Homo sapiens: one gene and its partner. The protein of the gene in region 1 interacts with the protein of each later gene in a pairwise test. Each region holds a gene or a part of one and is shown in the gene's direction. Other genes may lie near its edges. The genes, in order: POM121C and STAT5A.

Evidence for each region.
Region 2: the proteins of POM121C (region 1) and STAT5A interact in a two-hybrid assay, tested with the Homo sapiens proteins (one large-scale study listed by BioGRID and IntAct).

Annotation. Positions count from the first base shown.
Region 1 is NC_000007.14:75,483,438-75,487,962, reverse strand, and holds the start of POM121C (nuclear envelope pore membrane protein POM 121C), read left to right. Parts: upstream 1-1,663; 5' UTR 1,664-2,099; intron 2,100-3,643; exon of another isoform or gene 3,644-3,765; intron 3,766-4,525. UniProt on the Homo sapiens protein: Essential component of the nuclear pore complex (NPC). The repeat-containing domain may be involved in anchoring components of the pore complex to the pore membrane. When overexpressed in cells induces the formation of cytoplasmic annulate lamellae (AL).
Region 2 is NC_000017.11:42,308,971-42,312,747, forward strand, and holds the end of STAT5A (signal transducer and activator of transcription 5A), read left to right. Parts: intron 1-76; coding exon 77-128; intron 129-406; coding exon 407-514; intron 515-1,536; coding exon 1,537-1,699; coding exon of another isoform or gene 1,700-1,760; 3' UTR 1,761-2,973; downstream 2,974-3,777. UniProt on the Homo sapiens protein: Carries out a dual function: signal transduction and activation of transcription. Mediates cellular responses to the cytokine KITLG/SCF and other growth factors. Mediates cellular responses to ERBB4.

The DNA of each region.
Region 1 (4,525 bases):
AAAGACTCCAGGTCTTTTCTGGAGAGTCTGACACCTTTTAAGATCCAATAAGAGATATTTATCATCTATTCTCTCTGAAGCCTGTTCTGAGGCTTCACCTACATAACAAGAACCTTGGTTTCCACAATCCCCCTTATCTTAACTCAAACTTTTCCTTCTTTTTTTTCCCTCCCTCTTTTTCCTTCCTTCCTCTCTCTCTTTTTCTCTCTCTCTCTTTCTTTTCTTCTCTGTTGCCCAAGCTGGAATGCAGTGGTGCCATCATGGCTCACTGTAGCCTCAACTTCCCAGGCTCAAGCGATCCTCCCATCTCAGCCTCCTGAGTAGCTGAGTCTACAGGCATGCACCACCACACCTGGATAATTATTTTTTTTTTTGTAGAAGTGGGGGTCTCGCTGTGTTGCCCAGGCTGTCCTTGAACTCCTGGCCTCAAGGGATCCTCCCAGCTCACCCTCCCAAAATGCTGGGAATACAGGCATGAGCCACCGCAATGGCCCATTTCTTTATGTAGTCTTCCAGCTGTTCAGCCAACACTTAACTCTGAACCAACTGCCAGTCTTTCAATCTACTAGTGACCTGAAAGCCTTTCCTGGCTGACCCAACATATACTTCCCATGTATTGATTTATGTCTTTGCCTGTAACTACTGTCTCCCTAAGATGCATAAAACCAAGCTGTAACCCAACTACTTTGGGCTCACGTTCTCAGGACCCCCTGAGGCTGTGTCACCAGCCATGGTCACTCAAATAGGAGGCCCAGAATAAAACTCTTTATAGACTTTGACTCTTTTTGGTCAACATAACCTAACCCTAAACATAATCCTCCTGGGGAAGGTAGGATCACAGGTATCTCTTCCTCGTTCAGTTTGTGTGTGTATGTCCTTATTTCTCTACGGTTTTTAGGCATTCGCTGTGTGATCTAGAAAAGCTATGGAGTCTCGCTTTGTCGCCAGGATGGAGTGCAGTGGCGTGATCTCGGCTCACTGCAACCTCCACCTCCCAGGTTCAAGTGATTCTCCTGCCTTAGCCTCCCGAGTAGCTGGGATTACAGGCACGCGCCACCACGCCCAGCTAATTTTTGTATTTTTAGTAGAGACAGGGTTTCATCATGTTGGCCAGGATGATCTCTATCTCTTGACCTCGCGATCTGCCCGCCTCGGCCTCCCAAAGTGCTGGGATTACAGGCTTGAGCCACTGCGCCCAGCTACAAATTCTATTTTCTTTTTGTTCCTTGGAAAGCATCGCTGGGCATTTATCCTGTCCCAGTATTTGAGTGAAACTTCTCAGCATTTCAGAGCAGTGACCATGATACACCCTTTCCTTTCCTTCTCCTTATGGGAAACTCCGTTCTAACCCAGAGGACTTGGGCTCCAGGACCCAGTAACGGAGCCCTGGATTTGACCCTAAAAGGGAGTAAAGACAAAGGTGAAGTTCAGTCCGGGGTTCAGGGCTGCCAAAGCTCATAGCCTGGAGCTTCTTAACCTTTAGGCAGGGTAGAGACATTTAAGACGGCCCCAAAACTGGGGGAGCGCGTAGGCTCCTGGGAAATAGAGTCCGTTACTTGTCCTGGGACCCGCGGTGGGTGTCCCGGGAGGCGGACTTCCGGTGCACTCCTGCGCTTGTGCACCTCTCCCTGCGTGCGTGTTCGCACATGCGCGCCACCTCCGCACTGCCCTCGCTTCCTGTGCCTCTTCAGGTCATCGCTTGCTCTCGTTCCCAGGCTTTGGCTTCTAGTGGACGAGAATCACCGAGTCTGCGGGGCTGGATGCTGACCGCCCGGACCAGCACCTAGGCGGGCGGGAGCTGTGCGGCCCAGGGTTCGCGCGGGCCGGGTAGAGGCTCGAGCTGGGACCCCCGAGCGTGAACCCCGGAGCCGGCGGCGCTGGGGCCAGAGGGGCCGGGAGCCCCAGGGAGGCGGATCTGGGCCCCGAGAAGGACACCCGCCTGGATTTGCCCCGTAGGCCCGGCCCGGGCCCCTCGGGAGCAGAACAGCCTTGGTGAGGTGGACAGGAGGGGACCTCGCGAGCAGACGCGCGCGCCAGCGACAGCAGCCCGCCCCGGCCTCTCGGGAGCCGTGGGGCAGAGGCTGCGGAGCCCCAGGAGGGTAAGTCTTGGGTTTTTGGGCCCGGAGCGAGAAGGGCCTGGGTGAAGTCACCTTGTGTTGGGGACCTTTGAGTGTGGGGCAGAGGGAGGGTCCCGATTGCTTGCCGGAGAGACATGTGTTGGGTTTGAGGGCAGGGTCCGGCTGCACCGAACAGGTGCTGCATGGGAAGATCTGGGAGGACGAGGCTTACGGAGGCGTGGAGGGTGTCACCACCCTCAGCTGCGGACGTCGTCTCCACTCCCCGCTAACCCCTAACAGTCCTTCCTCCTCCTCTCCGTGCTCCAGATTTCGACCGCCTCTAAACGTCCGTCAGCACTTCTATTCTCTCACTTAAGTGTCTGCTGATCCCCCCCCTTAGACCTGCCCTGGGAGAATCGTAGTAATGCAGGAACAGTCTGCAGGGATTCTCTGCTGCTGCCTCAGTTGCTAGGGGAAGAGACTGGGCCTTAGGTGGGTGACTTGACCAGGTCACCGGCTTTGTGGGTAGAGCTGCTCATAGTAGAACCCAGGAGACTTATCTCCCAGGCCAGTGTTCTTTCTCCCGTATCCTAGTTTTCTTAATAGAAGATTATTAGGTGCAGCAATAACCAAGTTCAGTTAGATAATTTAGAAACAAAACCATATTTTATACACATTCATTTCATTTCTGAGAGCTCACATACTCAATTCCTATGGCTTATTTTATTTTAAGCAGTTTAAAGAGACAATAAGAAAATGCGGGCGGGATGCAGTGGCTCACACCTGTAATCCGAGCATTTTGCGGGGCTAGGGCAAGAGTATCCCTTGAGACCAGGAGTTAGAGACCAGCCTAGACAACATGGGGACACCCTGACTACAAAAAATACAAAAGTCGCCAGGCATGCTGGGATGCATCTGTGGTCCCAGCTACTCAGGAGGCTGAAGTGGGAGGATGGATGGAGCCCAGGAGGTCGAGGCTGCAGAGAGCCGTGAATGCACCACTGCACTCCAGCCTGGGTGGCAGATTGAGACCCTGTCTCAACCAACAAACCACAAAAAACATGAGCCGTATAATGGGAATTTTTTTTCTTTTTGCGCCTTGTATTTGATGATGATGGCAGACTATTTGTAAAAGGAGTCATGTTACCCATGAGAGTCTAACTCATCTAATTACTACCTGATTATCTTAGAGTTACAGGCGCATGCTTCCCCTATCACTCTTTTTTTTTTTTTTTTTTTTTTTGAGACAGTGTCTCTCACCCAGTCTGGAATGCAACAGCGTGGTCTCGGCTCACTGCAACTTCCACCTCCCAGGTTCAAAGGATTCTCGTGCCTCAGCCTCCTGAGTAGCTGGGACTACAGGCATGTGACTCTATGCCTGGCTAATTTTTTTTGTTATTTTTAAGTAGAGACGGGGTTTTGCCATGTTGGCCCAGGCAGGCGGATCACTTGAGGCCAGAATTTGAGACCAGCCTGGCCAACATGGTGAAACCCTGTATCACTCTTTTAGACCCTTCTGAGTGTTTGCAGGTTGAGTGTTCACAGGGTGTTAGCCTATTGAGCTTTCTTTTGCGGTTCTTATGCAGGTGATTTCTGCCTTTGCAGGCCGGAGCCCTCATGACTTCAGTGACCTGCTTCTGCCCCTCTAGGTCTATCAGCCACAGTCTCTGCATGTTTCCAAGAGCAGCAGAAAATGAACACATTGCAGGTGAGTTTTCCTGCTTGTGTATATGTTCCTCAACTTTATTTTATGATGCATTTTAAGAGGTTTGTAAGGATTCATACTTTTTTTTTTCTTTTTTTTGAGATGGAGTCTTGCTCTGTTGCCCAGGCTGCAGTGCAGTGGCATGATCTCGCTTCACTGCAACCTCCACCTCCTGGGTTCAAGTGATTCTCCTGCCTCAGCCTCCTGAGTAGCAGGGATTACAGGCGTGGGCCACCATGCCCAGCTAATTTTTTGTATTTTTAGAAGAGATGGGGTTTCACTATGTTGGCCAGGTTGGTCTCAAACTCCTGACCTCAGGTGATCCTCCCGCCTCAGCCTCCCAAAGTGCTGGGATTACAGGCATGAGCCACCGAGCCCAGCCAGGATTCATACTTTAAAATGGGAATGTGGAAATAGACATTATCCTGTAAAATATAGTTAGTGTGGCAGATCAGCACCAAAAATGATTTGTGAAGCTTGTATGTATGGGTAGTATATTTTAAGGCTGTTGAAATTGAGCCGCACCTAGGACTGATACTCTTGGCAGTCATCACAAAAGGAAAATGCCATCTGTATTAGTCCATTCTCACACTGCTATAGAGAAATAACCAAGACTGGGTAATTTATAAAGAAAAGAGGTTTAATTGGCTCACGTCTGCAGGCTCTATCATAGGAAGCGTGGCTGAGGAGTCCTCAGGAAACTTACAGTCAAGTGAAAGGTGAAGGGAAAGTGGGTGCATCTTCCATCACCAGAGCAGGAGGA
Region 2 (3,777 bases), on another chromosome or scaffold:
ACATGGGGCGTGGGCTTCCACCCCACTTGGGAGTTCCCAGAGACTTTGGTTCTCACCACTGTTCTTCCCTTGACAGCTAAAGCTGTTGATGGATATGTGAAACCACAGATCAAGCAAGTGGTCCCTGAGTAAGTGTCCAGGTGGCTGTGGCTCTCCTTCTGCCTCTTTCCTCCTCCCCCAGACCCTGCCTCCCATCCTGATCCTGGGCCCAGCTTTCCGCTCCCCCAGGGAACCTGTCTCAGCCCTGGGGAGGGAGTCCCCTCTCCTGTAGCTGGAGCCCCAGGGCCGAGTGGGGCACTTTGTCCGTCTACACCCCGAGAAAGACAAACATGCCCCTCGGTCCCCTCCCCAAGTCAGCTGCCCCGGCCTCCCTGGTGGCTGAAGCTCTGTTCTCTTCCTTCTGCAGGTTTGTGAATGCATCTGCAGATGCTGGGGGCAGCAGCGCCACGTACATGGACCAGGCCCCCTCCCCAGCTGTGTGCCCCCAGGCTCCCTATAACATGTACCCACAGAAGTAGGTGGTGTTCTCATGGGGTCCGCAGGGGAAGAACTGGGGACTTGGCCCCAGGCTGGACTCCTGGAGGGCTGGCGGGCAAAGGATCCAGAGCTCTGGTTAGGCCCAAGTCCAGGAGGAGTGAGATCAGCCAGGAAAACAGAGCATTTTGAAGCTAGACATAGCAGGGTCAAGTCCTCACTCTAGTACTAACTGTGTGATCTTGGGAAAATGATTGAGCCTCTCTGATGCTCAAGTTTCCTTATGTGTAAAACGGAGGCAAGAATGCTTGCCTCATGAGAATGGGATGAGCATTAAACTGAGACAGTGTGGGTGAAGCATTTCCACAGGGAGGGGCTTGGAAGGGCTTGATACAGGGTAGCTATGAATGGGGTGGTTGTTCTTGAGTCTGGTGGGAACAAGGTAGATAATTAATTCCCTTCCTCACTGTGGATAGCCAGGGCTGGATGTCTGGGAGGTACCACCTTCCAGTGGGACCACTGAAGATCCCAGGTTCCAATCCGGACTCCACCACCTCCCAGCCAGGTGGCCCAGAGCAAGCTTCCTGATATGGCCTTGGTTTTCTCGTCTATAAAACGGGGTCAATACCCACTCTCCAGTTGGCTGTAAAAATTGGAGTCATGTGCTCAATAGGCTCAGCTGTTCTAGGTGCTCAGTGAAAAGATTCAGCTGTTCTAAGTGCTCAGTGAACGGGGCGGTGCCTACCATTGCAGCTGAGCATCATTGCAGGTGGGCAGAGCCCACTGTGTCAGCCACCTGGTTTTAAGATGAGGACACGGAGAGGGGAAATGAATTCCCTAAGATTATTCAGTGAGTTAGCAAGAGATGCGAATAGAGTGGGGGTCTGCAGAAGCCAGTGGGCTGACTGCTACCCAGCTTGGGGTGGGGTGGGGGCATCCAGCCAGAACTGGTCCTGTTCTCATGAGACGGGTTTGAGTGGAGAGCAGGCTGGAGGCTGTCCCCAGGGAGCTTGAGGCTGTGAGACATGCCAGCTCCCTCTGACATCCCCCTGTCTTTACCAGCCCTGACCATGTACTCGATCAGGATGGAGAATTCGACCTGGATGAGACCATGGATGTGGCCAGGCACGTGGAGGAACTCTTACGCCGACCAATGGACAGTCTTGACTCCCGCCTCTCGCCCCCTGCCGGTCTTTTCACCTCTGCCAGAGGCTCCCTCTCATGAATGTTTGAATCCCACGCTTCTCTTTGGAAACAATATGCAATGTGAAGCGGTCGTGTTGTGAGTTTAGTAAGGCTGTGTACACTGACACCTTTGCAGGCATGCATGTGCTTGTGTGTGTGTGTGTGTGTGTGTCCTTGTGCATGAGCTACGCCTGCCTCCCCTGTGCAGTCCTGGGATGTGGCTGCAGCAGCGGTGGCCTCTTTTCAGATCATGGCATCCAAGAGTGCGCCGAGTCTGTCTCTGTCATGGTAGAGACCGAGCCTCTGTCACTGCAGGCACTCAATGCAGCCAGACCTATTCCTCCTGGGCCCCTCATCTGCTCAGCAGCTATTTGAATGAGATGATTCAGAAGGGGAGGGGAGACAGGTAACGTCTGTAAGCTGAAGTTTCACTCCGGAGTGAGAAGCTTTGCCCTCCTAAGAGAGAGAGACAGAGAGACAGAGAGAGAGAAAGAGAGAGTGTGTGGGTCTATGTAAATGCATCTGTCCTCATGTGTTGATGTAACCGATTCATCTCTCAGAAGGGAGGCTGGGGTTCATTTTCGAGTAGTATTTTATACTTTAGTGAACGTGGACTCCAGACTCTCTGTGAACCCTATGAGAGCGCGTCTGGGCCCGGCCATGTCCTTAGCACAGGGGGGCCGCCGGTTTGAGTGAGGGTTTCTGAGCTGCTCTGAATTAGTCCTTGCTTGGCTGCTTGGCCTTGGGCTTCATTCAAGTCTATGATGCTGTTGCCCACGTTTCCCGGGATATATATTCTCTCCCCTCCGTTGGGCCCCAGCCTTCTTTGCTTGCCTCTCTGTTTGTAACCTTGTCGACAAAGAGGTAGAAAAGATTGGGTCTAGGATATGGTGGGTGGACAGGGGCCCCGGGACTTGGAGGGTTGGTCCTCTTGCCTCCTGGAAAAAACAAAAACAAAAAACTGCAGTGAAAGACAAGCTGCAAATCAGCCATGTGCTGCGTGCCTGTGGAATCTGGAGTGAGGGGTAAAAGCTGATCTGGTTTGACTCCGCTGGAGGTGGGGCCTGGAGCAGGCCTTGCGCTGTTGCGTAACTGGCTGTGTTCTGGTGAGGCCTTGCTCCCAACCCCACACGCTCCTCCCTCTGAGGCTGTAGGACTCGCAGTCAGGGGCAGCTGACCATGGAAGATTGAGAGCCCAAGGTTTAAACTTCTCTGAAGGGAGGTGGGGATGAGAAGAGGGGTTTTTTTGTACTTTGTACAAAGACCACACATTTGTGTAAACAGTGTTTTGGAATAAAATATTTTTTTCATAAATTTGCTGCTATGGCTCCTGGTTGGGGCGTTGGTGGCCTCCCTGGGTGATGGGAACCCCTGGAGCTGGTTGTTCTGTTCCTTCCCGCGTGCATGCCTGATGCTGTCATTTTTAGTCTTAAATTTTAACTCTGCCCGCTTTGCTGTGGTTTTCAGGGTGCTGGCCACCCCTGGAATACTGTCAATGCTTCTCAGAAGGGTAAGGAGCCAGTTTAGGGGGCACAGATTCCTTAAAAAGCAGGGGACTCGAGGTTTGGGGAAATGATGGAGATGGGCGCGGGTGGGCAGAACTCTGACCCAGGCTTCTCCTTAGCAGCTGCTGCTCCCAGCAGCCTCGAAGCTGGCGGCTGAGGGCCCGGCGCCAAGATGCTTCTCAACCCTCGGGGCCAGGGGCAGTCCCAGAGCCGCAACAACCGTCCCATCCTCCTCCTTCCCAGAGACCAGCAGGTGGCACCACGCGGCTGCGCTGTTTTCAGCTGGCTGCCGGCGACTGTGCGAGGCGGAGGTGCAGCAAGCGGGACCGGCTCGCCCCGGCTGGACCCCCGCACTGCCGGCTGCAGCCAGTCCCTGCTGTCGCTGGGGCCCTTGGGCTCAGGGACGCGCGCTCCCTGGGCGGGGCTGGGAGCCAGGTTTGCGGGCAGGTTCCTTCTGAGCTCAGAGCTCAAGCGAGGGAGAGGGGCGGCGCGTGGGCCCCAAGAGGGAGGTGCAGGGGGCCCAGAGCAGGGGGAAGGCGGGGGTGGGAGAAGAGAGGAGGGGAGGGGACGGGCAGGTGCCACCGCCCCAGGGGGCTAATCTGATCCATCTCTG